2 separate regions of the Homo sapiens genome follow, and region 1 is linked to region 2. The links come from fine-mapping of genetic effects on gene expression. A gene starts in region 2. The other region holds a variant in brackets. All regions are shown on one strand. Distances are from middle to middle. Region 1 overlaps HSPH1 (heat shock protein family H (Hsp110) member 1). Region 2 holds the start of HSPH1 (heat shock protein family H (Hsp110) member 1).

The links. PIP is the estimated chance that this variant, and not a neighbour inherited with it, causes the effect.
Region 1: its variant is the best candidate, but not a certain one, in a credible set for the expression of HSPH1 in thyroid (GTEx, PIP 0.67).

Annotation. Positions count from the first base shown.
Region 1 is chr13:31,119,322-31,135,228 of GRCh38, reverse strand. HSPH1 (heat shock protein family H (Hsp110) member 1) reads left to right here. Exons shown (of 18, transcript NM_006644.4): 18 at 1-256. Among named protein-coding and RNA genes, the nearest start is that of HSPH1, 35 kb to the left of the region's middle. The variant C/T (reference allele first, on the strand shown) is at 8,443.
Region 2 is chr13:31,157,639-31,172,644 of GRCh38, reverse strand. HSPH1 (heat shock protein family H (Hsp110) member 1) reads left to right here and starts at 10,741. Exons shown (of 18, transcript NM_006644.4): 1 at 10,741-11,169; 2 at 13,782-13,839. The coding sequence starts at 11,063. It overlaps LOC105370148 (a long non-coding RNA gene), which reads right to left and starts at 9,985. Exons shown (of 3, transcript XR_941825.3): 1 at 8,548-9,985; 2 at 7,403-7,491; 3 at 876-1,208. RefSeq lists enhancers at 10,115-10,384, 10,615-10,734, 10,865-10,944, 10,556-11,101, 11,102-11,647.

The DNA of each region.
Region 1 (15,907 bases), 38 kb after region 2:
GGAGCATCAGTCAGTCTGGCCTAAATCAGTGTACTGCGCTTTTGGATGCGGGCAAAAGTATTGTCATGTTGATTACTTTATAATAACGTATTAATATCATTGGCTCAAACAGTTGTGATATATACCTAGTAATCATCGAGGATCTCAAAGATATGCACCAGTTTGAATAAATGCTGTTTAAAGATTAAATTTTACAATTCATTTTAAATTGTCATTTTGTGACAATATTTCTAAACAACGTCCATTTTTAATAACAGTTGAATTTTGAGTCTACTTTGTCATGAATATTATGTCTGAGCAATGATTAACTTACTTTTCTTGAGTAAAATCCCAATGTTTGCTTGATTATTTATCAAAAGAAATAGTGCAATTAATTTGACTAGTGTAACCTGCCTCTACAAAATAGCCTATTGGAAGTTAGTTTCTGAAGGGCTAAAATCTTTAGCTACTGTGATTAATGACTTGCGTTTGTAAGCAGCATTCAAGATACTTTTTTTCTACATTACCACTTGTCAATTTATATCCAGACTTCTATTTTGCCTGTGGTGTTTTGATTGTTGTGGAGTAATATCTCTTGCCATCTATCATAGTTTTCATAGCACAAAACAATGACATCAGCTTTTCTGGGAAGATGGAGTCTATACAAATATTTGGAGAGAGGTTGACTTTCTCCAAGTACTGAGTAATTTTGGTACGGTTAAGCTCTTCTAAGTGGGCAGAATGATGAGAAGTGTTCCCCTATTTGCTCTGGCATGTGTGCTATGGTTTTCTTGTATTGGTCTAGTTTGTTAGCCTTAGAGACTTCCTAAAAGACAACTAGTCGAAACTAGTTGTCTTTTAGTTCATATTAGCATGTGATTTGGAAATAAGAACGGGAGCATACTTGAAAGCTCTAGGATAACAGCTTTTCAGTCACTTGTGGTTTAGTTTTCTTAGAACTGCATAGCATGGGCCTGTTGACAGTTCTTATACTGCTTCAGGGCAGGTGGCAGGCAGTATGGTATAGTGGAAAGATCTTTTGGGGTTGGAAAAGATTTTGTTTCATGTTCAAGAGTTCATGCTGGCCCCTTAAGTGCTATGGTTTTTAGGTAATTAACCCAATTTCTGTGAATCCCCATTTCCTCATCCAAATCTATATAACCTTGACAGGGCCAGTCTCTGCCATGGTGGATTCCTCTAGTGCTGGGTTTCTCAACTTTGGCATATTAACATTTGGGGCCGGCTAATCAATTGTGGGGGCTGTCCTGTGCCTTGTAGGATGTTTAACAGCATCCCTAGCTTCTACCCATCAAATGTCAGTAGCACCTCTCTACCCCAGTTGTGACAACCAACAATGTCCCTTGTCCTTCAGTTACAGGGAAAGTGACTTTGAACTTCAAAATAACACTCAAAGAGAAGGAAGTAAAATGGCCCTTTCTGAGTATCTTTAAGCAATCCGGCACTGTGCCAGGTGTCTTCACTCAGGCTTCACAACGATCTTCTCAGAAAGGCATTGTTGCATTGTTTCCCCCATTTTACAGGTGGGAAAATGGGGTGACGCTCTGACCAAGCTAAAATATATGTTAATTAGAACTTAGATCTAACTGTAAGGCCCATGTTCTCTCCGGTGGCGGAGCGATCAAAGTCGGCATGCACATAGCCAGGGATGAAAGTTGACTAGCACTGTGAAAATGCACTTGTATCGTCATTGAAAACTCCGTGGGAGGACTCAAAATCTCTTCCCTGAAATTAGCCATAAAATCCAACCATGTTAAGATTTGCTGTTTTTTCACCAGGCTGTATCCGGTTTTCTAAACCCATGTTTATATGAAACACTGAAGCTTTTCTTTACAAAATGCAGATTCTTAGTCCAGTGTTTTGTAAAGCCGATCGAGACCAGTATTTTTTTTTAAAAAAAGAAAAAATTTAATGAAACAAAATATCAATGCATCATAAGGAGTTAAGGTGAGGATTGGTGTTTTTGTTTTCTGTTTTTTTGAGACGGAGTCTTGCTCTTGTCGCCTGGGCTGGAGTGCAATAGCACGATCTCGTCTCACTGCAGTCTCCGCCTCCCAGGTTCAAGCGATTCTGCCCCAGCCTCCTGAGTAGCTGGGATCACAGGCATGCACCAGCACGTCTGGCTAATTTATGTATTTTTAGTAGAGACAGAGTTTCACCATGTGTCTACTAAAAGACGTATGAGGCCAGGCTGGTCTCAAACTCCTGACCTCAAGTGATCCGCCCGCCTTGGACTCCCAAAGTGCTGGGATTACAGGCATAAGCCACCACGCCCAGCCAAGGATTGTTTCTTGATGCTTTTATCTGTTTGGCATAAATTAGGTCCAGGCTTACTGAAGATCGTGTCCCAAAATGTTTGAGAGATACTGGCTTAGACAATTGCAATTGTTCATTAAAAAAAGAAACAAACAACAAAGCATACCTTTTCATTGAGCATTGGACTAGAAACTGACTTTTAACCCTGGTTGCATATTAGAATTTCTCAGGGGCTAATTGTACAAAATACTGACACATACTCTCAGAGATTGATGTAATTGGTCTGGGATGGGACCTGGGCATCAGGATTTTAAAAGCTTCCCAGGTGAGTCCAATGACAACCACAGGGCTGTTGACTGTATGTGGGGTGTCCTGTTTGATAACTGATGTCTCAGTGCTAAGAATTTGAAGTTTCCTTTTCAAAGCACTGATGATCTATTCTGTAGATAAACGGATGATAGACTCATCCATTTACATTTTTTCTGTAATTATCCTTTTCACATTGGCTATAGATGTTCAAGTATCACTTACATATACCCAACTTCCCTATACCTCTCCCGCTTCTCACAGGAGGAATTTTGGGATTGATGCAAAATGGCTTTCTGCACCTTTCTATAGGTTTTGTACATGTTTAACTGACTTCTGCATTAATCACTGAAGCTTTGAGTCCCACTGAGAATAAGCCTCTCTGTAGCCGAGTGAATGAAGGCAGCTGAGTATCTTGCTGTAGTTCACTGTTGGACTGGTGCTTTCAGGGGCTGCTTCCCTGCATCACCACCACCCCTCACCCCCCAACATCCTCTGCACAGACACGTACATCGTCCCCCGCGTGGACACATACACAATCCCAGGGGTTTCCTATCAATGTGTTCCTTTTTGCTTCTGGCTCTTATTATTAATAAAATACAGAAAAGCATGGAGAATTGGGAAACAACCCCTTCTTGCACTCAGTACTGGCCCAGCTGAGCAGGGAAGGAGTACTGGAAAGTGTAAGTGGTTGTTTGGCTTTTAAGTCAAACACTTGGGTTTACATTCTGGTTGCACTTTTCACAATCCATATGGCCTTGGCATTAACCTCTCCAGCTGGTTTCCTCTGTAAACTCAGTTTCTGCCTCCACAAGGTGGTTGTTGAAGATTAAAGGAATTTGTGCACATGATGTGTTGAGTGATCTTGGCACAGGGTGGACACCCAGGAAGTTCTACAAGTTATGTTGGCTGGGGAGGTGCTCCCTCGTCTACCTCTTCAGTGTTAGCTTTCTTCTCCGATATCAGCGTTCACTTTTTACTTCTCATTGCCACCGTTGCACACAAACACACTGATGTTTTATTTACCCCCTTCGTGGTTTCTGTGAAAGTGTGGCTTTTTAAGTAGACATTGCCAGGGAGTCAGAGCATGGCTTTCTTCCTGCTTGGTGAACCAGGAGGCTGCTGTGCGTTTAGCAGGAACCCAAGAGTCTTTATGATTGCTGAGGTGCCTGTGGCTCCTCTTGACTGCCCATGTCTGAGTGTTTGGGGGCGTTCAAAAGCCGAAGGGTGCCAAAAGTGTCTCTGGAGAATTGTGACTTTACAGTCCATAAGCAGAGGACAATATTTTCCCAGTCCCAGAGATGTAAACTATTGCCAGGGTGTGTAAGCTGTTTGGTTTCCTAATAAAATCTCTCAAGTCTTTTAATAATACCCCTTTCCCTTCTAACAATGACAAATACCAGACTAGCATTTAAAAAAAATGCTCCCATGATTTAGAAAAGTTGAAAGAATAGCACAGTGAACATGTGACCAGTTACTGTGACACTTCTCACCATGTGCCTTCTTGAGACAGGGACCTTCTCCTGAACCACAGGCCATCATCAAACCCAAGAAATCTCATTGACACAATAGTATTTCCAGGTCCAGTTGTCCATCAAAAATGTCCTTTACAACTGTATTTTTGGATCCAGGATACAAAGATTATATACTTTATTTGGTAACGATGATCAGCTCAACACTTTTAAAATGATGTAAATTTTGTTTGAGAATTTTGGAGATTTTATAGCTACTATACATAAGCATGTTATCCAAAGGATTACTTTGTTAGAGGAATTAGACAATGCTTCTTTGATAGTTGTTTTTAGGCATTACTTGTATCCACTTATGTCAAAAAGCATTATTAAATGTGGCCCATCAACCAAAAGGTTGCCATAAATTATATTGAATGTATTTGTTGACCTAACCTTAACAAACTACTGGAGTGTTCTAGTGATCAGAGTCATAACTGTTCCTCCATGATTGGGTGATACAAGTCCAGGAATAAACAGTTCCCACTGCTTCACAGCCACAAGAATAAAATCTAGAATAGCAGATATTGACTCTACAGTTGCTATGGCTTTCATGTGTTTATGGCACATATACTGTGTGTTCTGCACACAGGTGGGTTGATGTATTTTCCACACACAGCTGGTGTGTTCTGGTCACACTCCTCATGAGTGCCTGCCTGCCCATCTGGAATTCCTCCCTACAGGTGTTAGCCCTGGGCCTCGGAGAAGGGGCATCACCTTCACTGTACCAGTTAGGCCATTCAGTTGTAAAATGTCACAAACCCACCTAAAAGTACTTTGGTTCAAAGGGGATTTATAAGCAGAAGGATGGCAGGTAGTGAAAGCAAGCATTGACTAACCAGTCTGTGCATAACTCAGGGCAGCCGGGCTTTTGGAACACTGGGAATCCTCTCCACTATCCTTGCTGATAACTTGCTTCTAGGGGAGGTTGGGAAGCATAGCTGCAACAGCAGTCCCCAGCAGACACCACTAACACACCTCCCAGGGGCAAGAAGTCCCAGGGGGAAATTTCCATCCCTCCCAGGGACGAAACTGTGCCCAGAGTGAGCTCTGCAAGAACATGACTGCTGCCATTCTAACCATGAGTAGGTAGAGGGAAGAATATTTATCAAAGCAAGTGGGATGCTGCTTCCAGGAGAATGGAGGATGCTGGGCAGACCCAGCTGCACATCTGCCCGGCACGTAACCTAGTTTTTCCCGTTCTCCCCTGCATCCCAGGGCATGTGCATTCTCCCAACATGGCACAGAGGAGACTGGCCAGGAAATGTTTCTTCAGTGCTGAGTCCATAGGCATTAGGACCTCATGTGTAAGCAGCAGACCCTGAGGTTGCACAAAGTGAGGGTGGCCCAAGATGCTGAGAACCTCCCAGCTCCCAAGGAGGGAAGCAGGGACTCGTTACTCCTTTCCCACCACTGGGAATCATGCCTAGTAACCTGAGCAATTCACCAAGCCGTTGCTCTGAGCAGGGCTCTTTGGCCCTCACAGTTTGCCCAGAAAGCTCATCCTCCAACCCCCAGGCGCTGATGTCCTCATCTGTGTTGTGCATGGCGCCTCCTGCCCTGCTATTGTGTGGCTCTGAATCGGGGAGAGGGAGTGGGGAGTCCAGGCTGACTCCCAGGTCTCTCTGACTTTAGTCTCTCTTTTCAAGGTGAAAAACGGTGCCCTTCCTTGAAGGAGAACACGCAGAGAGAGAGCCAGAGAAGAAGGTGAGGGAGAGCCAGGTTTACCGTGACACATGTTGAATTTGAGGTGTGTGCAGAGCCAACAGCCAGCCAGTGAGCAGAGTCTCCCGGGTGTGGAACTCGGTAGAAAGCAGAGCTGAAATACAGACTGCAGTCGTAGTGGACAGCCGGGCTCTCGGTGCAGACACACAAGCCAGCTGTGCACGCAGTCCAAGTGAAGGATTTTTGTCCTGTGTGTGCCCCCCATGCACCTGAGTCATACGCACCCTCCTCTACTGAGCTTTTAGCCTCATCTACACATGTGAGAGGGAAGAGGCTCAGTTCTATTCATTTTTTAATAGCCCAAGTGCCTAGCACAGGGTTTGCATTTAGTAGATGCTCAGTCAGGATTTGTCAAAGAATTGAGGTTCAAAACAGAAACCCTCAGGAGGCCTATGTTAAGAATCAGGGCAGAAGAAAGGCATCTGAGGAAACAGTGGTGGGAGAGCTGGAAGGAAACAGGTGGTAGAGGTCACAGAAGCCAAGGGAGAAAAAGGAGGAAGGGATGGAGAGGGACGAGTGCTACAAAGTGGCCAAAGGAGATGAAGACCAGAATGTGCACTAGACTGAAGCACAGAGTTAACTGGCGTTTTCTGAGAGCAGTTGCAGCTGAATGAGTGTGAGGAAGCAAAGGACATTGCATTTGGAGAATGCTCTCCCATGTGTAAAATTAGAAAATTGAGTGGGAAACTGGAACAATAAATGCATTCCACAAGAGTCTGGGGTGGAGTTTGGGTGATGAATGCTGTGGTGTCAGAGGAAGATGGTTCTCTCCTTGTTCAACTTATCATGGTCTTCATATGCTTGTCTTTGGTCCCACTGAATCAACAGGGTCTGGAAGTCAGAGGCACCTGTTTCAGCCACCATCGAAATGGAAAGAACCCACAGGGTGTCCTGGATTCTCCCTTCTGTCCATCTGGCCTCACCCAGTGCTAGCCCATTCCCCTCTGCCCATTTCCTACTTGGGACCTGGATTAGTCTGTTCTTATGCTGCCAATAAAGACATACCCGAGACTGGGTAATTTATAAATAAAAAGAGGTGTAATGGACTCACAGTTCCACATGGCTGGGGAGCCCTCACAATTATGGTGGAAGGCAAAGGAGGAGCAGAGGCATGTCTTACAGGGTGGAAGACAAGAGAGAGCTTGTGCAGGGGAACTCCCATTTATAAAACCATCAGATTTCATGAGACGTATTCACTATCATGAGAACAGCATGGGAAAGATCTGACCCCATGATTCAATTATCTCCCACTGGCTCCCTCCCATGACATGCGGGAATTATGGGAGCTACAATTCAAGATGAGATTTGGGTGGAGACACAGCCAAACCATATCAGGAACCTCTTGGAGATATCAACTGCAGCCACTCACTCAGTCTCTCCCCCTTCCCATGCTCCTCAGAGTTTTAGCCAATAATGAACTATAAAACCATTCCTCACAGAAGTTAAAAAATTGCCTGACACAAAGACTTTTTGAGATAATAGGCTTGGAAATAGGAGTCTACGTTGGCCCAATGTAGACTGCCATCCATGGCAGACTCTTTGTTTCATGGCGGTGGGGACTGGAGGGCACACACTGGTCTGGGGGCTCCCCCTGGCCCATGAAAGCAGGTCTGCAGGCCAGGGGCTCTAAGGTCATTGAGACCTACCCAGGAGTGACATGTGCAGAGCTCAGATTTCTAACATAGTGCATCTTTCCTACATAAGCTCATAAATCTCTTGCTTTTAGGAAGAGAGGTGGGGGCATCACAGCTAGTTTTGGCAACCAAGGAAGAGCAGTCCTCAGTCTGAAACTATCCTCTGTGGTTGTTGGGGAGGTCCTGCACTGGTTGAAAAGTGTCCCTAAAAATGGTGATTAGCCCTTCCTCAGAGGTGGTAGAGATGTTGGGGCAGGACCATGGCTTCAAGGAGGAAGGGGTTACTCCCAAGGGACACCATGTACCCCCAAATCCTATATCCCTGGCCATGGCAGCCCTGCTCAAACCCACCCAACCTCCCACCCTCAGGTGTACATACATGTGCATATGCTCTCTCTCTAACACATACACACTGCATCACACATACCCCATGCATATGCATGCACACACACACACACACACACACAGGCACACTGCACCACACATACCCCTCAACCCCACCCTCCACCAGCCTTCACCTGTCCATCTTCCTGCTGCTCAGGCCTCTCCCTCCCTAGGAATCCCTGGCCAGACCTCCTGACAATGTTCCAGTTGGTCCCCAACCCCTCTATGGAGATCTCTTTGTGTCTCTCCTATTGTATTTAAATCATTACTTTATAATGTGTTTGTAACTCTCTCTGCTGCTAGACTGTGTGTTCCTGGAGACAAGAATAGGTTCTTAGTCCTATTTGTGTCCCCAGAGCTTAGCACAGAGCCTGAAACATAAGTGAAATGTGAACTAAATGAGCAAATGAAATAATTGATGGATAAGCACTGGCCAGATTCCATATTCCAAAGAAAACTGTGCTCCATTCCAGAAGTCTTAGTGTCATCTTTCTAGGGCTGCCATAACTAATGACCACAGACTGAGTGGCTTGAAACAACCCACATTTATTCTCTCTCAATTCTGGAGGCCAGAAGTCTGAAGCCAAGGTGTCAGCAGGACCGTGCTCCTTCGAGGGGTCTAGAGGAGAATC[C/T]GTCCTTGCCTCTTCTAGCTTCTGGTGCTGCCCTGCATTGCATGGCTTGTGGCCACATCCCTTTATTTCTTCTTTCCATTACTTTTCCACATGTATTTCTTTTACGTCCTTTTGCCTCTCTCTTGTAAGGACACTTATGACATTTAGGGCTCGCCCAGGAAATCCAGGGTAATCTCCCCATCCCAAATCCTAAATCACAGCTGCAAAACCCCTTTCCAAATGAGGTCATATTCATGGGTTCCAGGGACTAGAACTTGGATCTTTGGGTGGCCGTTACTCAGCACGCTATGGAATTCCCAAATGGATGAGAAAAAACATTGCCTAAATCTTTCTTGCAAAGTTTTCCCATGTTTCACCAGAGAGGAATCTCCTGGACAAGATGTGCTTGCTTTGTCATTGTCCAGGAACATCCAACCAGCGATTAAATTTGTAAGCCTTCAATCATACCTCTGTTGATAATAAAGGTGCACAAAAATGACACCTTTGCATGAGAATCTCCACCAAGGGCAGAAATGAAAAGGGAGACAGGAGGGTGTGCTTCAAGATGAGAGGCAGGGGAAGGTACAATATGTCATACCAGCCAAGTTATTTCAGACTAGCATCTAAGCCACAAAATAGAGTCTTTGGGATCTTGGGACTGATGGCAAGGGGAAGGCAGGCCCAGACTTAACCTTAGCTCCTGAAAGGAGGGGGTGGGATGAGGAACAGGAGGTGGAAGAGAGTCTGAGCGAGGGGGAGTAGTCACGGTTAAGATGAGACAGACTGGCCTCCAGGGTTGAGAAGAATGATCCTATCCCCTGTGCTGATAACAGAAGGACCTGACCAAGCTTCTAGGAGCTGTAGCCAGGCTCCTCTGAGCACTGGAGCCAAGTAGTGATACATCTGACTTTTTCCTGACCCAGCTCCTCTTTCTGCCCCCTTCCCACTCCCTCCTGCCTGGATTTGAATTCTGAGTTTTCTCTTTCCCAAGCTCCAGAGGGGTAGAGGAGACCAGGTCCCAGCTCTGCCATGTTTGCTGATGGGTCTGGACATCTTTCTTTCTCCCCTTTATTTCCTCAGCTGTTAGTAGGGGGTGAGGAGCATGGTCCCTCCTTGATGGTCCCCTACCTTCTACCAAAGCATCCTAGAAAAGCAAACAAACATTTGCTTGAGAGTTGGACAAGTGGTGCTACTTTGAGTTGTCCTAGACAGGAGGAGAGAAGGCAGCTCCATTCCTCGAGTACAACTGATTAGAGACCAGGATCCTGACTAGACTTCATTTACCAGTGGGTGGGGTCACTCATACCAGGGTCTTCAGCCTCTTGTAGATTTGGGTGAAGAGGAGGGAAAGACCCTGCCCAGGCTCTGAGCCCAAGATAACCTCCAGCTTTAGGGGACTACCAGGTGTCCCAGCTCACAATAAAATGGTGCCTTGGCTCCATTTTCCATTGTTCCTCGTTGCATGTCTTCCTCTGGGATCTCACCAGGAGAAGGGGTTAATGGTAGGGCATATTCAGACTCTCCTGGGACCCCTGCTCCAATGCCAGCCATCAGCATGCTGAATCCCATCTGGTCCCCTCTTCTGACGACATCCCATTCCCATCCTCCCTGCCTGCTGGCTGACAAGCCTCATGCTTTTCTTTATGGAAAGTGAAAGATGACAGATCCAGGAAGCCAGAAACATCGGTCCCAGGCTTGCTAGCAAACTGAAACAGCTTACCTCTCTGTGCCTCAGTTTCCTCATATGTTCACCAGTAGTCATCACATTTGCTCAGCCAGGTTCTGGGCTTCCTGGAGGTGAGAACTGGGAAAAGGAGACTCCTTTGAGCTCCAGTTTCTCATCTGCAAATTCTGAGGAACAGCATTTGTCTCACAGGATTGTTGGGAGGGAGAATTGAAAGATGAGATGTGGAAGCTCTTCAGCAATGTCAAAGCAAAATAAGTTGACGATTAGATAGAAAACAATGTATAAGAGGCTGAATGGAGGAGTGCCTTAATGCAGATGAGTTGCAGTTCAGACAGCATTTCTCAAAGGATATTGCTTGGAACACTCATCCCACAAAACACAGCTTGAATAAGGGGCTCCTTGTAAGTTTGGGAAACTGTTCCTTTCCTGGGGATTTACCAGGCACTTGAAAACATTAAGAGCTCAGAAAAGTACTGAGGTTAACAGACCCATTGAACTGTCTTTAATCCAGCATTTCCCAAACTCATTTCTTCAGGGAACCACTCCCCTGCCTGACATGCCCCCACTTTAATGCAGGGAACCGAGAGTAATCGTTACACTTGTCCCTGCCCCTGCTGTGATGGACGCGAGGGAGATGGGAAAGCAGGATGCTGGCTGCAGAGGCAGGAGGGAGTGAGAAGGGGGCAGAAAGAGGAGCTGGGTCAGGAAGAAGTCAGATGTGTCACTTCTCGGTTCCATTTCCTCCCATCCAGGTCAGACCAATTGGAAGCTGCACCTGGAGGTATCTGGAACCCTGCTTGGCATGATTTATAGAGGTGGGTTTTGTTTTGAACACTGCTGGCTTCATATAATGGCATTATTTCCTCGAGGGATTAGTTAATGGAGGGAACATTGCTCTCAGAGAAACAGCATCAACGCAGATCTCTCAACTTAAAATAGTACTGAGTAGACAGGCCATGACCCCGAGATTGAACTCGAAATGCTGCGGTCCAAAATCAAGGATGAAAAAGGAACACTTCGTTGAGCAGCGAGAGAAATCCACCATTGAAAGGTTTATAAAAAGCAGCTTGGAAAAAGGGGTCTGGACTACTGAGACTGATTGTTTAGGAGGCTCAAAGGCTCAGCAACAGAGGGGGAAAAACTGGGGGAGGAGCTGAAATGCCCCCCACTAACAGCTGAGGAAATAAAGACTCAGGGGAGAAAGAAAGATGCCCAGACCCATCAGCAAGCATGGCAGAGCTGGGACCTGGTCTCCTCTATGCCTCTAGAGCTTGGGAAAGAGAAAACTCAGAATTCAAATCCAGATCAGGAAGGAGAAAGGAAGGTAGGAGGGAAGGGAGAAGGCAAAGGAGGAAAGAAGGGAAGGAGGAAGAAAAGAAGGGAGGAGGGAAGGAAGTAAGGAAGGAAGGAAGGAAAGGAGGGAAGGAAGGAAGAAAAGGAGGGAGAGGAAAAGAGAGAGAGAAAAAAGAAGTCAGGCAGGAAGGCAGACAGGCATAGTCTGATAGTCTCGTGGCAATGGCAACCAACTGTCTAGCCTCAGGAGATGCATGAGACACGCACATATTGTCTGTGCCCCAGAATCCTCCTCCTCTCCCAGTAATGGCTGGGCTTCCTCATCCCTGGGGCTCCATCGGGCAACCATTTTTTGAGGGACCAGCCCACAGCCCTCAGTTGGCTGGGTCAAAGTGAGCACTGACCAGAGATATGCCAGCAAGCTTCAATTTGGGACTTGGAACCCAAGAGAAGTCAAAAATCAGTCTCTCTGTGGAGCAAAAGCTGCCAGTGAAACCTGGCAGCTGCTGTGGCCATGCTTCCTGAAGTGTGGGGAGACCTGGTCTACAGAGAGAGAGGTTGCATGAGAGAGCACCACACAGGGGCACGAGATGGAAAGACCGTCCTGATGAGGTTTTCACGTCCCTGGTGATGGTTTTTCCCATGGTCCTAGGAGAAAGTTGAGAAACTCTTAGGTCAACATTTAGCAGATGCTGAATGTTCTGTCTTCCTACACTGTCAGCTCCCTGAGGCCCCAGATGGCCAGTGTGGATGTCGAATTCTCGGGGTCCTCATAGTTCCATGGCAATTGCAGCAATGCAGGGAGAGCCAGCCCCTGGCTCTCAGCCTCTTACTTTCCTCCTTCTCCCTCCACCCCAGCTTCTTTCTGCACTGTGGAGGCTTTAATGTGCATATGCATGAATACCCCCACCCCAGCTAACATGTCCAGTATAAGTCCGCACCCCAACAAACCCTGGCCCCTTAACCACTTCTCTGGGCCTGGGACTGTGTGGCCCTTCTTGGGACTGATGGATGTGGGAGGAGGCCGTGCAGGTTCTGAACATGGACTTGGGGTGGTCTGGGCATGGGATTTCCCGGTTCCACGACCTGGAGAAGGAGGTGTGGTTAGGTAGGCGCATGGCCAGGACAGGGGTCCCCTTGCCCTGCTCCAGGAGGGGTACAGGTCATGGGTGGACCTGAGAGTGGGGAGCGGGTACTGGCAAGTGTTGGACTGGAGGAGGGCCCAAGAGATTGCCTAGCTTTGCAGTTAGGGGCTCTCTGCCCCTTGCGGTCTCCATTTGCAAAGTGATGGCTTTGAATTATAGGTGGAGGTTGACAGCTCAATGTTTGGGAACAAACAAAGGTTTGGATTGTGAATTTTTTTGTTTGTGTGACTTTGGGCAAAACCTTCATCTCTCTGAGGACCAGCTTTCTCATCTGTAAAACTGGATGTTCCCTTTCTAGGCTGCGGTGAGGATTCCACAATGTTGGTGAAGAGATCAGCACACTGTGTGCTTGGGAACTGGCAGCCACACTATTATTCTTTCTGAGGTTGCTCACTTACAGCTTTAAAGTGGCTGCTCTGGGGCCATCCTTGGGAAGAAGAGGGCAACTGGCCTCCTAATTTTATTCCCAGAGCCGATTTCCTTCAACTCTGGAGTCTGGTAGTTAAGAGCGCGGGCTCTAGATTCTCCTGGGTCATTTCATTGTTAACCATTGGTGAGTCACTTAACTTCTGGGAGCCTCAGTTTCCTGGTTGGTAAAATGAGATGATAACAGTATCTATTCCCAAAGATGTTATTAGGAATAAATGCAAATACATCTAAGCTCTGAAGCAAGGCCTGCCTGGCACAAAGTTAATGTTTAAATCTGCCAGTGTTTTTCACCAACAGCCTCATGGTTCTCTCCCACTGTCCTCAGCCCACCTATAGGCAGATGCTGTAGGTGGCATTTCGATCTGTGGCAGAGCTGCTTGGGGAGCCATCGGCTCAGCTCATCAGCCCTGTGCTCTTTGCTCAATGAAACGGCCTCCAAGGAAGAAAAACCTCAAATCTGATTTGTTCACTTAAATTCAAGCTCTAATTGTTTTGGGAAGAAGCCCACGGTGGCTGAAATCATTCCTTGTTTTGCTCTTCTTTGCTCCTGTCTGGCAAAGCTTAATCTCAGTCAGACCTTTTGATTGCACAGGGAAAAATTTGCCAAGAAAAGAAAATAGCAGCTGGGTCTCTTTAGAACTCAGACAAGGAAATTGCTTTATGATCAGGACTCCTTCTGGGCAGCTTCACTTCCTTCTTCTTCCTGTGTAAGAAAATTTAAATTAAACAAGTCTGAGCCAGTAACAGACAAATCTGGCTTCTCCCTGAGACCTGACACGCAGGCGACCTCGTGGCCCTGGAAGGTCTGGTGAATGCTGGGCCACCCCTGGCACAGGTGCTCTCCAGGAGGGCTTGCTCTGCCCCAGCAGCAGCCTGGTGGGAAATAACCAGGTAAGTACAGGGTGCAGATTCCTTGGGCACCTGAGGGCCCCCTGCTTCCCCTGCTTAAAGCAAAGACCCCAGGTAGAGCATGGTCATTGCACATTTTCCATCAGCAAAAACATATTTCCGTCAATCCCTTCTACTTGATCCTATGTTGCCCACTCTTTCCTACCTCCTGGATGTGTCTAAACCCCTCGGAAAGCCATCTGCTTCCACTCCTCAAACCCTTTCCCTTCATCATCTTGTCCTTGCCGCTGCCACCCCCAGCTCTGTGCCAACCACATTGAACTACTAGAAATTTCCAGATCCAGAACATCCCCTCTCTCTTGCCTAGTGGCCTTGCCTCAGGCTCTTCTCTGTCTCTCTTTGATTGTGGAAAAATGGCTGGGTGTGGTGGTTCATGCCTGTAATCCCAGCACTTTGGGAGGCCAAGGTGGGCAAATCACAAGGTCAAGAGTTCCAGACCAGCCTGGCCAACATGGTGAAACCCTGTCCCTACTAAAAATACAAAAAATTAGCTGGGCATGGTGGCAGGTGCCTATAATTCCAGCTACTCAGAAGGCTGAGGCAGGAGAATTGCTTGAACCCAGGAGGTGGAAGTTGCAGTGAGCCAAGATCACAATACTGTGCTCCAGCCCAGGTGATAGTGCAAGACTCTGTCTCAAAAAAAAAAAAAAAAGTGGTGAAACACACATAACATAAATTTACCATCTTAACCACTGTTAAGTGCACAATTCCACAGCATTAAGTACATTCACATTGTTGTGCAACCACCACCACCATCCATCTCCAGAGTGCTTTTCATCTTGCAAAACTGAAACTCTACACCCATGAAACAACAATTCCCCATTTCCTTCTCCCCAGCCCCTGGCAACCACCATTCTACTTTCTGTCTCTATGAATTGGAAGACACCAGGTGCCTCCTGCGAGTGGAATCAGTATTTGTCTTTCTGTGACTGGCTCATTTCATTAGCATAAGGTCCTCAAGGTTCATCCGCATGGTAGCAGCTCTTCCTTCTCTTAAGGCTTCCTTTCAGATGGCCACATCCTACTCATCTTTCAGGTCTCAGCATAAGTTCTCTCCCTCTGGGAAGGCACCCTGCTGACCTCCCAAGTGAGCACCCCCACCATGCTTTGCATTCCGATCCTGTCAGGGGACAGCCAGGGATGTGTGAGCTCCTTCAGGACACAGACTCCTTTCCATCCGTGGTTGTATCACTGCACAGCGCCTGGCACTGAGTGGTGGCCGCCAAATATCGCACAGGGAAATGTTGAACAACCTTTCCTTGAAAATATTCATGAAGAATTTTCAACAAAAACCTTGAGACCAGATCTGAATGCTCTTGATCTACCGAGGGTACCAGGTATCAACCACCCTTTCCTGGAGCATATTTGGTCTCTGTGGCACTGTTTTCTGCCTGTTCTCTGGTTCCTCTCGCCTGACCTACAATCTCTGCTCAATCCGTCCCTCCTTCTCTTTGAGCACTCGAGGTGGCTGCACCCACTTTTCTCCACACACATCCCCTTGGGTCATCCTGGCCCCACCTCTCTGGAGATGATTTCCAGTCGCCTCTCCATGCCTCACTTCATCCTGCACAGCCTGGGAAGCACCTCACTCCGGCCATCTCTCTCCTTCTTTCTGTGTAAGCTGACCCAGCCTCTGCGAGTCTGTTCGTTAACACCAGCACCATCATTTGGCTTGCAGTTTGCAAGGACATGCTTGATTCCACAGCAATGTGCCGATTGTCCATATCTTCAAAGTGTTCGGAGCATTTGTAAGCAACACCCCTTCCGTTGTATGCTCCTATAATAGCCCTTCTCCAAGGCCTTATCACGGTGGGGTGGCAGAAAGAGAAGTGGGATCCTATTCCTGCCTTGCCACATATTGGTGTTTTAAGTTTGGCAAATTACAAGTCCTCCCTAAGCCTCAGTTTCTTCATCTGTAAAGTGGAGATAACAAATAGAACATCTCCAGGGACGTTGTGAGAACTAACAATGGAATTTAGTGATTTCCTACCTAAATGGGTGAGATATCCCTGGGTGGAAGATC
Region 2 (15,006 bases):
TTTAGGGCATGATACTATATATCCCTTTAGAACATGTACCAACATCACTATAGCAATCCACTAAGCAGAAATATAACGTGTTATAAAATAACACTGGAGACAGGGCCAAAAGAACAATGTCATAGAAATAAAGGTAAAGAAAAGAAAGTTAACCTTTCTAGGACAGTGATAGATTTTAAATCTGTGGTATTCAGAATATTCTTATGAATTTTTCACAATGGAATGGAGGTATTTTGACCTCCCCTCTAAAATCTGATTCTCTGATTTAGAATTATCTGCAAAGATATTCACACAGATATATGTAGTTTTTTTGAAATTTGTGGACTATCAATTATCTAGGCAGTCACGCAATATGAACAGCACAATATGAAAGATGAAGATAAGGAAACAGTTTTGCTGTTCTCTTTCATAATCCTGGGAGAGGGTTATGAAGGGAGTGAAGTGACTCGGAAGTGTCTTAGGTAACCAAGCATTAGTAATCAAAGCAATAACAACCATAGCTGTCAGCTATTGTGTGCCCTTTTAATGGAAGACATCTGGCTTAGGTGATATTACTTTATTAATTGGTCCCCACAATACCACAATGAGGTAGGATTTTTTTTTTTTCTTTTTTCGAGATGGAGTCTCACTCTTGTTGCCCAGGCTGGAGTACAGTGGCGCGATCTCGGCTCACTGCAACCTCCACCTCCTGGGTTCAAGCGATTCTCCTGCCTCAGCCTCCCCAGTAGCTGGGATTACAGGCGCCCGCCACCACCCCCAGCTAATTTTTGTATTTTTAGTAGAGACAGGGTTTCGCCATGTTGGCCAGGCTGGTGTTGAACTCCTGACCTCAGGTGATCCACCTGCCTCGGCCTCCCAAAGTGCTGGGATTACAGGCGTGAGCCACCGCACCTGGCCAAGGTAGAATTTCTTACCCACATCTTACTGGTAAGATTTTAGAAGAGTTAGGCAGTTTGCCCGAGAAAGGTTGCAGATGCCAGGATTTATACCCAGCTCTGCCTGACTCCACACACAGTCTAGAGGGTTGTCTTGTGACTATTACTATAATACCAAATGCACAGTACAGCTGCCAAGGCCCTTAACCTTGCTGCAGTTCTGAGAGTTGGTTCTCTTTCAGTTTCCTGAAGGCAGGAACGTGGGCTGTTCGTCATGGTATCTCCAGCACAAAGCAAACGGCTGCCACATTGTAGGAGTTCATCCAGATCACTCTATATGAGGAAAGTGCGAAGGTGACTTGCTAGAATAAAACATTTCAAGTCAAAGGCTAATAGGTATTTTCATTATGTAATCTATAAGGACATTTAAAACCATAAAGGTTTGGCCATGTTGGTTTTATTTTATCCTAATTAATATCATGGAGACCTACTGCTATTCCAAAAAGCCAATAAGGTCCTTGGATTCCTCCTTTTGTTACTGGTGGAGAGTGTCTAGGTTTTTGACATCTTGAACAAAGAATTGGACAAAATGCACAAACAAAACAAGGAAAGAATGAAGCACCAAAACAAGAGATCTATTGAAAATAAAAGTACACTCCACATGGTGGGAATGGGTCTTAGCATAGGGGATCAAGGCCCCAGTTCCAGAATTTTCTGGAGTTTAAATACACTCTAGAGGTTTCCCATTGGCCACTTGGTTTACACCCCATGCAAATGAAGTAGTGGTCCGCAATCAAGAGGCTGAAGCAAAGTTACAAAGTTACATTCGTATGCAAACATCTGATTGGTTGTGGAAAGCAACCAGTCAGAGGTACTTTCAATTTTCTGTCTGCTATGCAGGAAAAGGAGGGAGGGTTTGCAAAGTTGGGGTTTTCCTTTTGATTTAGTTCTAGGAAGTCAGCCTAAATCGGCCTTAGGTTCCCTGCCTGCAGACTCTATTCTCCTGCCTCACTTTGGGAACAGCCCAGGATTCCTCAATGTTATAGTCCCCACTCACCATCCCTGCCAAGCACCCTCACATCTCCTTACACACAACAACAGACAATGGTACTCTGCCCCCAGGGAAGAGTTCTGGGTCTATTCAAAGACAGATGTGATCCTCAAGGACATGCCATAGGTCACAGTAGTAAGGGTCGAGCTTCCATTACTCCAGAGGAGAAGAAAAACCTTTGTTATTCATCTCTGCCACCAAAGGCGATAGTCTAGAGTGGATTTCCTCCTCCTAATGAGTTGCCCTCCCCATTGGAAAGGCCAGTGCAGGTCCCAGGTGGGGGAAAAGGAGGAATGGTTTGTTGTTTGTTCTAGCAAACAGGGAAGGACACTTTTTTCACTTTCTTGCAGCTGATGATGTAAGAAGGCCTGGCTCCCTCTTGCTGGTTAGGCCTCTTAGCCATGGCAGACCAAAAAGAAATCAGATAGGAAGAGAACATGCATGTATGGCTTAAGAACCTTGGCAGAGGGCTGGGCATGGTGGCTCACGCCTAGAAATCCAGCACTTTGGGAGGCTGAGGCAGGCAGATGACAAGGTCAGGAGATCAAGACCATCCTGGCTAACATGGTGAAACCCCATCTCTACTAAAAATACAAAAAATTAGCCAGGCGTGGTGGCGCGTGCCTATAGTCCCAGTTACTTGGGAGGCTGAGGCAGGAGAATCGCTTGAACCTGGGAGGTGGAGGTTGCAGTGAGCCGAGATTGTGCCACTGGGCGACAGAATGAGACTCCATCTTAAAAAACAAAACAAAACAAAACAAAAAAACAAACAAAAAAACAAAAAACAAAAAACAAAAAAAAACCTTGGCAGAGGTAGGTCAGGGATTTTCATTCTGGGGCATTTAGGAGACATGACCAACAGTGAATGATTAATAAATGATGAAGAGAGAAAGGGAGGAAGGCAGGAAGAAACGAAGGAAAAGGAAAGGAGCAATTTTTGATTCATTCAACAAAGGCCTATAAATAAAAAGAGAAAGGACAGTCTTCGGGAGCTCACAGCCCTTGGGGGAATCAATAAACAAGCCCTAAAGTTTGAACAACTCAGACAGAAATCAGAGGCAGCTGAGCAGAGCAGGGAGCGCGGAGCAGTACTCCCCTTTCTTCTCAAGAGGAATGGAGTTGCGGGGTCGAGGGGGCAGTGGGGAGCTGTTGGGAGGGAGCCACAAAGATTCTTATGCACCCAGCCAGTCTGACCACGGTAATATAAGGCAGAGTCCTACAGAGCCATATGCCCCTTGGCTATCTTCTTTTTTCTTTTTTTTTTTTTTTGAGACAGAGTCTTGCTCTGTTGCCAGGCTGGAGTGCAGTGGCACAATCTCGGCTCACTGCAACCTCCGCCTTTCGGATTCAAGCGATTCTCCTGCCTCAGCCTCCTGAGTAGCTGGGATTACAGGTGTGTGCCACCACGCCCAGCTAATTTTTGTATTTTTAGTAGAGACGGGGTTTCACCGTGTTGGACAGAATGGTCTTGATCTCTTGACCTCATGATCTGTCTGCCTCGGCCTCCCAAAGTGCTGGGATTACAGGTATGAGCCACCATGCCTAGACTGCCCCTTGGATATCTTCCTATGCAGCCTTTAATATAACCAACTAGGGAAACTGGTTTTATTTAAGTGGAACTTATTTAATAAAAATATCTCCATTCTGGGAGTGGAAACTTAAATCTATGTGACTTGGTTTTTTCATATGACCGGGAATGATTGGGAGCACCTGTTTGATGACGTAGCCGTGCTGGCAGTCGGAGGAGCCACAACAGAGTTGGGTGGGGCGGAGTGCTGGCATTTAACAGCAGCTAACAGCGTGAGGGCCGGCTACACACCTGGCTTAGTGCAGGGCACTGGGCACAGAGAGATGCGTAAGCATGGATGGCACACCAGAACCCAGGCGAAAGGAGCTTTGGGAGTTGGGAGGCACCAGCCGGCGGGTTATCTGCCTGGGCCTGGGAGAGACAGAGGCTGGAGACATGGCAGGGACAAGGAGCTCAAGACACTCTCCTGCCTTTTTGTCTTGGGCTGACCCTGTTCCCTCTTTTCAGAGACAAAGGGGAAAACATTTATATTGTCAAAATATAAAAAGAGTTGTTAAATGGTGAAAGGCTAAGAGAGCCTTTGTAAGCAGGAAATAAGGTGGACTAACGTATTTATGGAGAATGGGCTTCTTTAATGAAAGTAACAAATTACACACTTCCTCAGGAAAAACAGAATTGTAACCGTTTCTTCAGGCACATGTGAAAAGAAAGAAAGAAAGGAAGGAATAGTTAGTATCCTGTATCTTTTCTATTCCAAATTATGATGAGGTCGATTCAAAGTCCTTGTACATAAAGATGAGTCATTTCAGTACAGACTCTTTGGGTCTAATTTACATTTCAGAATTTAAAAAGCTGGTTTCAGTGTTGTTGGCCAGCAATATTAGCTTTCTAAGAGTAACTGAATTTTTTTCTAGGAAGTCTCATCTTCTCCAATGCTTTATTCCTTCCTCTCAATATATTTTAACCTCATGTTTGCTGGTGTGGAAAGCAGCTGAAAGGCATGTAGAATAATTTGAGTGCCTCATCCTTCAGAATAGGCAAGAAATTCCCTTTTTGCTGTTTTCCCATTGATGCCAAGGAATTAAATAAAGCAACCGTAATTTGTATGGCTTTGAGTTGTGTCTCTCCTTTCCACATTATTCTAGTCATCCACCATTAGACAAGTGGTTATATACATCCTTGCCAAGATGTAACTTTGCAATCAGATAGTGAGTTCTTCCGAAGTGTCCGGAAGGAGGAATTTCATTTCACTTGGCACAAATGAGGTAAGAACAGTATGACTTGCTCAATAAAAACAGGTACCCAAAATGTTTTTTATTCTACCACTCCCACCCTCCCTAGTGGATTATTAATTAGTTTAGGGGAACTGAATGCACCCTTGGTTCCAACAGCTTAATGAGCTACCCCATGAGGGCATCTGTAATATGTCTCAAGAGCTCAGACACATCCTGGTTTCAGAATCCTCTGACACACAGAAAAATACACCAACAATTTGTAGTTATTTTCCCACCAAAATGAAGGTGCTTTTTTTCAACACAGCAAACCTAAAGAGTCTGTACTGAAATGACTCATCTTTATGTACAAGGACTTTGAACTGACCTCATCATAATTTGGAATAGAAGAGACACAGGATACTAACTCTTCCTTCCTTTCCTTCTTTTCACACATGCCTGAAGAAACAAAAGAAAGAAGAAAAGAGGAATCTATTTCTGGTATATAAATTTAGTTTTCAGGGTGGAAAATCAGAATATTATGTAGGGCAACAATGATTCTGGTTATCCAAATATTAACTTTCTTTCTCCTTTCTATGATAGAATGACTAAGGTAACCATGAATGTAAGAATTAATTAATAATTTTCAGTCACTATGTGGGCATTCTAATTATTATTTCATAAGTAAAGAAGCCAAGGTGGCTGGGCACTGTGGCTCACACCTGTAATCCCACCACTTTGGGAGGCCGAGGCAGGTGGATCACGAGGTCAGGCGTTCAAGACCAACCTGGTCAAGATGGTGAAACCCCTGTTTCTACTAAAAATACAAAAATTAGCCAGGTGCGGTGGCAGGCGCCTGTAATCCCAGTTATTCAGGAGGCTGAGGCAGGAGAATCGCTTGAACCCAGGAGGCGGACATTCCAGTGAGCTGAGATTGCACCACTGCACTCCAGCCTGGGTGACAGAACAAGCCTCTGTCTCAGAAAAAAAAAACAAAAAAACCCAAGGCAAAGGAAAACAGTGAATTGTATGTACCTTTCTGAAGGAAGTAATTGATAATCACAAAAATACTTTCAACCACAGTTCAATATTACCTTCTTGGAATAGGCAGTGCACATTTGTACAACAGCAGGCATGTCTCGTAGCCAAATGAGAGATGTGTCCCTCCTCTTGTAACCTAATACAGGTTGGAGTTGTCTGACTCATTCAGATCTGGGTTACCGTTCTCCCATCTCTTAGCCTCTGTGGCTCAGAAATCAAACAGTGCTCTATTTTCTTTCAAACACATTCTGAGACTCTGCCCTTTTTGTATTAGGCTTAAATCAAAGCTACTGCTCTTAACCAGGGACAACTTTGTCCATTGGTGACATTCGGCAATGTCTGGAGACATTTTCGGTTGTTGCAATTGGGCCAGGGGTGAGGTGGTGGGGGTGTGGGGGGTGCGGGAGGAAGAGCAGGACACTGCTGCTGGCAACTAGTAGGATGTGGCCATGGATGCAGTTAATTATTCAGGGTGCAGGACAGCCCACACGATGACTATCCAGCCCAAAATGTCAACAGTGCCAAGGCTGAGAAACTCTGCATTAGAGAAAAGCATTTCCCAATAAGTTTGTTTTTTCATTCAACTATTCAACAAATATTGATTGAGCATCTATAATGCACTATAAAGAAGAAAAACAATCACTGCCCTCTGGGTCAGACAATCAAAGAAGGGAAGTACCTAACACACACACACACACACACACACACACACACCCCAAGATCACTGCAGCTATATGTTGTAGTATAGAGTGTGGTACATGTTGTGAAGGAAATCAGTGGATAACAACAGAGAGTGAACCAGGAGGTGCTTTAGGTAATATGGTCATGAAAGACCTTCCTGAGGAGGTTACTTGCTTTGGGTAGCAAGTAACAGAAACCCCAATTCAAGTTGGCTTAAGTGGTGAGGAAATGTATGGCTGGCATAACTTAAATCTAGAGGTAGGGTGGGTCTCAAGACTGACTTCAGCCCTAGGCTCCAACTTAATTTTCTTAGTTCTATCCACTTCCATGTGTCATTTCCTTTTCAGGATGATAGTAAGGTTGTTGTAATGGTTCTGGGCCTCATAACCTCACACAACAGCGCCTGGAGGAAGAAGAAGATGGAGGGAGTGGAAGGAAAGGGATGGAAAGGGGCAGAGAAATACCCTCATACCCAGGCATTCTAAACCATAGCCCTGAAAGTCACCCTGATTGGGCTGCCTAGGTCACCTGACCATCCTGGAACCAACGACTGTGGCCAAGGGGAATAGGATGTGCTGATTGGCCTAAGCCAAACAGTGACCACCCTCCGCATTCGGGCTGGCACCAGCTTCTCCTTAACTGGACAAGAACTGGGTGTACTTTGGGGAAGGGTAATGTGCTTACTGGGTGGGCATTCAGAAACCTTCTCTACAGATGGTGAAGAATTCAATAGAGCCTTGAAGGATGAGGAACTGGCCTAGCCAGGAGCCTGAGGAAGAATTTTCTAGGCAGGGGAATAAAGGAACACCTTGATGTGGGGTAGGGGGCCAGTGTGCCTGAGCACGGTGTTCCAGTGGCAAAGTGGCTCACAGTGAGTTTGGGGGCAGACATGAACATTTTCCTACACATTGAGTTTTTGTCTGCCACATTTATTACAAAATATGATCCTTTTTAGGCTAAAAGAAACATCATTTTACATATCTTTTCCATGTCCTACCAGACAAAACATACTTACCTTATTTCTAGGTGTACCTTTTTATAAGTCTCTGCTCCCTGCGTGATTTCCCCATGCATTCCTATTTTTAGATGATCATTCTATTATAACTTAAAATAAGGACAAAATAGGTTTTAGCAGAACCAATTAAGGTTTAAAAGATACATTTTCAGGTTAATATATAAGAAGAAAACAAAAATCTTTTGGTAAGCAAATATTGAAAAAGGTTCAAACGGACAAGATTTCAGATAATTGAGTATTCATGATGCCCCAGCATTGCAGAGAAGTGACAAAACACATCTTGATTTAGAACAAGTTTTATACTACTTCTGTAACCCTCCAGACCCTGGCATTATGCTGGTTATAGAGAAGACTGCCATACTGGTTGATACCAGAAATTCAAAGTCATATGCACTTTCATGTATATTACTCTATCTGCATATCCCCTCCTTTGCCCATCTCTTCCTCCTTTCAAGGAAGCCTGGCATAGTTTTTTATATCTACTGCATATTATCTCTTTGAATGGCATTTTTGTTTGGGCTTTTCTTAATTTTGCATTTTTGTTTTATTGTTCTTTGGAAGTGGTCTGTTTCTGCTTCCAATTTTGAGGTCCTTCTTATTCTCTAAAACAAATATGGAATGAAACCTAATAATTGGATTCATAATTACATAACAAGGATTTGTAGGGATTGTCATTATTTGGTCCAAGTCTCATTTTAAAATTTCTGACATTACAACAGTAAGTGTGATAAATTCTACATGTAATAAAATATATAAACATATAAAGTAATAAAATATAATAAAGTGTTAAAAGTGAATTTTTTTAATAGTCTTGCTATATTGCCTGGGCAGGACTTCAACTCCTGGGCTGAAGCAACCCACATGCCTCAGCCTCCCATGTAGCTGGTACTAGAGGCATGAGCCACTGCACCTAGCTAGGAATTATTTTTTTATTTTTAGAGACAGACTCTTGTTCTGTTGCCCAGGCTGCAGTGCAGTGGAGTGATCATAGTTCACTGCAGCCTCAAACTCCTGGGCTCAGGTGATCCTCCTGCCTTGGCCTCCCAAAGTGCTGGGATTACAGATGTGAGCCGCCATGCCTGGCCCAGCTAAGAATTTCAATTAGATAATAAATATGGTAGATTTTACAACCTCTTATCACTTACCTGTTGTGCTGAATAATTAAGGCAAATCGATTAAATAAAAGGGGGCTACACCATGACTACACAACACATCCACAGCAGTACAAGATTAAAGTTTGTACTGACTTTCACTGAATGATATTACTTCTATTACTACAATTTATCAAATACCACCATACCATGTTTTATTTATATCTAATCCTTCCAAAATCCTAGCAAAAATAGGTATTACTTCCATTTTACAGTCGAGGAAACAGAGGGCAAAGAGGAATTTGACAAAGATGACAGACTTTATATGTTTATGTTTATATATGTTTAGTGCTTTACATATAGTTTCCATCATTACATAAACACCATGAGATGGAATACAGAAAGGCTTAGTAATTATCGCAACATCACACAGCTCACAAATAAGAATAGCTAGGATTCAAGCCCATGATGTCTGACTCCAGGAGGCCTGGTGCCCTTACAAGCTGTACTTTATATAAAACATCTTAGTAGAGTGCCAAGGATTTGAACCTGACCCAAATCTGTCTGGCTCCAAAGACTGAGAACTGTTCATGTCTCCTCTTCGTACGGCAGTTAAAATGTGGGAAGCAGACCAAATAATCTCAAAGGTTCTTTCTGTTCAAAATTGCTATGTCTCCATGGATTTTATTATAAGGTTTTGATATGTAAGAAAAAGTTGGTGGGCGGGGGGTGGGGACAGAAACCAAGTTTTTGGGATGCATAACAAAAATAACTTATAGTTACAGCTAACTATATGTCCAAATGTAAGAACACAACAACCCCGTGATAACTATTATTGCTCCCATTTTAAAGGTGAGTTAACTGAAGCATGTTAAGTAAGCCACCTAAGTGGCAGGAAAACTAGCAAAAGCACATACAATTTACATGTAATGTAAACCTGGGCCTTTCGTCTTGCCTCTGACTTAACCAACTTGTTTTGATAGACAAGGAGGAATTCCCATACTCTTTATGAGTTAGATTTTTCTAACTTTAGGTTACAACTCCTTATTCAATTACACGCTTATCCAATAACATATTTGAACTGTGCTTATACTTCCACATGCCTGACATAAGGTAAACTCAGGGATCAGAAGCAAACTTAAAAAGACACAAAAGGGTATAAAAGACCTGATAAGTTATCAGCAACACAGTTCCACCTTTTCTTACACTGTCTCTTTACTGAACAAAAGTTAACGGGGACATCGCTTCTGAGGGAAAGAAACAAAAGCTGCTTCAGATCAAACAAAAAGCAAAACTTACACACAGTACCAATTTATGGCTAGGAGTGGCAGGGTAGAACAGCGTCGGCTTAAATCAGACCTTTTAAAAATAAGCAGAAAGTGATACCGTGGACAGCCTGCCAAATGACGTCACAACTAAAAATCGATTTCTTAAAAAAAAAAACACCTGACATTTTACTCCACAAGAGATCATCCTGCTGCCTGATGAATACAAGAACACTTAACACAACCCCTTTGCTTTTATTATAAGCGGTTTGAACTGGTGTTCCTTCTCCTAAGTCGTAACGCACCAGTTGTCGGGGTAATCCAGACAATAATAGAAGTGAATACAAAACAAACGAACAAAATGACGCTTATTGCCAGGGAACCCGCGCAAAAGCGCCAGACAAAACCCTACCCAGCCTCTCTCGCGAGTCCCAGAAGACAAAGCCGGGTCCCAGCAAGCACTGCGGCCAGGACTACACATCCCAGCATGCAAGGCGCACACTTCTCCCAGCGGGACTACGATTCCCAACATGCTCTCCGGACAGCTGGCCGGCCTCCCCACCATCCCGGTGTCTGGGGTCTCTGCAAAAATGGGGTCTGTCTCCGCCCGCCCAGCCTCCCTTTAGCGTTAAGGATCGGACACCACCTCCCGGTAGTAAATTGTGACTATTCCGAGTTTTGGAGTCATTCTTCGTTGCCTGTTTTATTAGGGCAGCAAAACGCCTGTGGCTAGGGCGGGAGTGGGCGGAGGCAGGTTTGAGCCAATGGCACGGGAGCGGCCCTGTCGCTGCCATGGCAACGGCGGCCGTTCTCCGGGGACCGGCTGCCCATTGGGTAGAATCTTTCCAGAAGGCTCGAGAAGAAGGAAGCGGAAGTGGCACGTGGAGGGGCCGGTGGAGGCGCCGGTGAGTAAATGCCGCAGATTCTGGAAAGTTCTGATCAGTGCGATACATAAGGCTGAGGAAGTGGGACCTCCCCTTTTGGGTCGGTAGTTCAGCGCCGGCGCCGGTGTGCGAGCCGCGGCAGAGTGAGGCAGGCAACCCGAGGTGCGGAGCGACCTGCGGAGGCTGAGCCCCGCTTTCTCCCAGGGTTTCTTATCAGCCAGCCGCCGCTGTCCCCGGGGGAGTAGGAGGCTCCTGACAGGCCGCGGCTGTCTGTGTGTCCTTCTGAGTGTCAGAGGAACGGCCAGACCCCGCGGGCCGGAGCAGAACGCGGCCAGGGCAGAAAGCGGCGGCAGGAGAAGCAGGCAGGGGGCCGGAGGACGCAGACCGAGACCCGAGGCGGAGGCGGACCGCGAGCCGGCCATGTCGGTGGTGGGGTTGGACGTGGGCTCGCAGAGCTGCTACATCGCGGTAGCCCGGGCCGGGGGCATCGAGACCATCGCCAATGAGTTCAGCGACCGGTGCACCCCGTAAGTGGGAGTCTGCGAGGGTGGATGGGAGGAGGTTCTGGGCCCTTAGTGTGGGGACCCAAGATCGCGGGCTGGCTGTACGGATCACCGCGGCAAACGGAGGCGTTTGGGCAGCGGCGCACCCCTCCGTGGAACTAGGGACCAGCGACCCGGCCAGAGGAGGGATGGGGGGCTTGCCATCACAAATTGGAGAAGGGATTGTCTCAGGGATTCACGGGGGTGAGAGGAGTCCCAGAGTCGAGACTCTAAGGGTCGTCACCTTGTGCGGGCTTCCTATTGGGGGTTTTCAAAACCTACTGGGGGTCGGGCTGCGGCAAAGCCCGCAACTTCGCTCCCTTTTCTTGGCAGGCTGCAGCCTGCGCCTTCCGCGGCCGCCCCCGTATCCCCACCCGGCCTCTCTGAGCTGGCTGAGCCGCCTCCAGCTTGTCCTCCTCCCTTCGCGCATATCTTTGCGCACCGCGGAGCGGGGCTGCCGGCCTTTTTCTTCCGCATTGTGAATCTCGAAATGAACTGGAAGCTTCCAGAGCTTGTGTCGCTGCTTGTCCAGTGAGCAGGCGGATTGTTGTTAGCGACCACGGAAGCAGTCCTATGAAAGATTAGCCCACCTCTTTTTACCCAGTCTCTTCGTTGCTAACATTGTTGGCCTTAATGCCCGGGATCATTGTCGAAAGATGTAAACGTCTTTTTTTTTGCTCTTTGCCATTCATGAGGAATTGTAAACCGTATTTTTAAAATTAATTTTGCACAGTTTATTTAAAAGAGAATAAAAATTGCATACTTTTGTGCTAGGACGCCAAAAGAGGATGGATGTCGTCACTGAACTAAATATTCTATAGGAGCATAGGGTGGGCAAAGGGCAACATTTTAAAAAGCAAGTTTCGTGAAGGGATATTTTCGGACGAGAATATATACAAACATATCTGCATGTGCATTGATGAAAACAAATGATTTCATCTCAAGGAAAATACTGTACCTATTAATTTTTTTCAAATGTCCCAAGCTCAGGATGAAAAGTGCAAAATGAAAACATTGAACCTAAAGGTAGAATGAATGACTGGGGTAATACAATTATTTGGGTGCTGAGAACGTTTATGAAAGTTGAGTGGAAAATCTGAGGCAAAATATTTGGCAATGTTAGTAACGTTAGGAAGACTGTTCTGAGCAACCTGTACGTCTACCCCTGCAGATCTAAGTTTGTGTTTTGGTTAAGGTTTTTTTAATTGGAGTTTAGTAAGAAAGAAAACAGTATTTCAGGCTTTCATGCCTAGATACAGTTTATACTTTGTTCTGGTTGATCCAATAAAACAAAGAAAAGCTTTTCAGAGAAGAGAGTGGGAAAAAAAATTGTGTTATACAGGGACTACTGTGTGAAATCAAAGACAACAGGTATGGCCCTGAAAAATGTGAACTGAGGGCAGTATTGGAGTTCCCCTTAATATGTTTGTTAAACTATAATTGTGGTGGATTCTATTGTATCAGCTACTAATTGTTATTTAGTACAATTAATTTGATTCTCCCCTAGGAAAATGAGTAGATCCATTCTGCAAGTGTATGGTTATTCAGAGCTTACAGTGATGCTCTGATTTTGACGGTTTCTTGTCTAGCTTCTGCTTGGACACTTCTCTGGCTTTTAGGATGCTATTTTATTTAACACTTGCTCAGATAATATAGTTTGAGGATGTTTCTATTATAGCAAATTTAAACTTAAGGGTGGTACTTAATGCCCTCAGTATTTTCCCGTTTTGCTCATCTCGTTTACCATTACTCATACCTAAGCAGGTAGGAGTAACTCACCCAAAATTAGATTATATTTGAATTAGTAATCCAGAATTAGATAACTCCTCTAATCCAAAACCTAATTCACTTACCTTCTTCTCACAAGACTTTTTAAGCTAGTCTCTGCTCTGTTATTGTGCGGTTCCATTTCCATGGTGGCTGAGAAGGTTGTTTCACAGTTGTAAGTCACTTTCCATCTCTTCAAAACAGATTTGATGTAACTGATTAGTCACTCCTTTCCCTCGACATTTATATTCTGTTTTGCCATGGTACTTGTTGTGCATCATTTTTTTCTTTCTCCGGCAGAATCTCCCAGATGGGAACCTCTTTGTGCTCTTTAAACTTCAGAGGTGTAACTTGGGTTCATTTGCTTGCGTTTGCATAAAAACTTTTGATTCCTAAAGAAGCCGGTGGTATATCAGAACAAAAGTCGGTATGACAATGACATTTAGATTTGTACAGAGTTGGTGACTGAAAGGTAGAGTCACATCCTATTTTTTGTTAGTCGTGTGTAGGGTCAAATTAATAATACCGTTAACATATTTAAAACATTTTCAAAGTTAATGTTCGGTTCATAATAACTGGAACCTGGAGAATTCCTGAGCCACGAGCAGAGGTTTTTGGGGTAGTAGAACTGCCACCTAGGTTGGATCTCAGAGCAGCAATTAAGTGGAAGCCCCCTTTGAGTATCTGATGAAAGCTATAGACCTTAAAATTGTGCTATGCTTGTTCCCTATCCCCTAATGGGTAGGACATTTATGTTAGTATTTTTCTCTTATCAGTTTAAAATATCAACCTTTATGCTTTTTAATTTTTTGGAATATATTTTTTTCTAGGTCAGTCATATCATTTGGATCAAAAAATAGAACAATCGGAGTTGCAGCCAAAAATCAGGTATGTTCTTTAAGAGAATTCGGATCACTTTTTAAGGGGGGAGTTTTTAAAAGGAAAATCTCAAGAGACATATAAGAGGGTAAAGTGTGCCTAAGTTTATGTATTTTTGAGTTTTAAAAATGTAATTCAAGTATTCTTTATGAACCTTCAGATGATGACACTCTTTCCTTTCTGTTCCCTTTCCCTTGTTTTATTAAGATCGACTTTAACTTTCTAATCTGCCATCCTTAACTTTTTTTTTTTTTTTTTTTTTTTTTGAGATAGAGTCTCGCTCTGTTACCCAGGCTAGAGTGCAGTGGCGCGATCTCGGCTCACTGCAACCTCCGCCTCCCGGGTTAAAGCGATTCTCCTGCCTCAGCCTCCTGAGTAGGTGGGATTACAGGCGCGTGTCACCACGCCCAGCTAGTTTTTGTATTTTTAGTGGAGATGGGGTTTCACCATGTTGGTCAGACTGATCTCGAACTCCTGAGCTCGTGATCCATCTGTCTCAGCCTCCCAAAGTGCTGGGATTACAGGTGTGAGCCTACGCCTGGCCTGCTGACTTTAACTTTTAGTAACTTTTTGCTGCCTTTCATTTATCTAATTTTTAGAAATTATAAACAAGGCATTTTAAGTTCTTGTGAAGTTTCTCGTGATACTCATTTAAGAGATTCCTTTTATAGAAGGAACTTCTAAGAAATTATGTGTTTAAAAGCATTTTCAGGTTACTTAGTAATTAAGGTAGGACTGGGAGAAATTTTTGTCCAGACCTGTGCTGTTTAAAAAATATGGTAGCCATGTACTGTATTGAGCATTTGAAATGTGGCTCGTCTGAATCAAAATGTGAAGTATAAAATACACATGAGATTTTTTACTTTTTAATCGAATTGAAAAGTAAAGTACGGTATCTGATCAATTTTTTTCTGTTGACTACTTATTGAAGTGATAGTTCCTAAAATATATTGGCCTAAGTTAATTGAAATTAATCTAATCTCTTACCAGTTTTTAACGTGGCTGCTACAAAATTTTATGTAGGTAGCTCTCCTTTATGACTTACATATAATTCTGTTGAACAGCACTGATCTAGACAGACCCCTTGGAGGTGGAGAGAAAAACAGTAAAAGATACGTGAAATGCTCTTTGAGAGGCTCTTTGAAATAAAAAACATTTTTCTAAATACAGAAAATA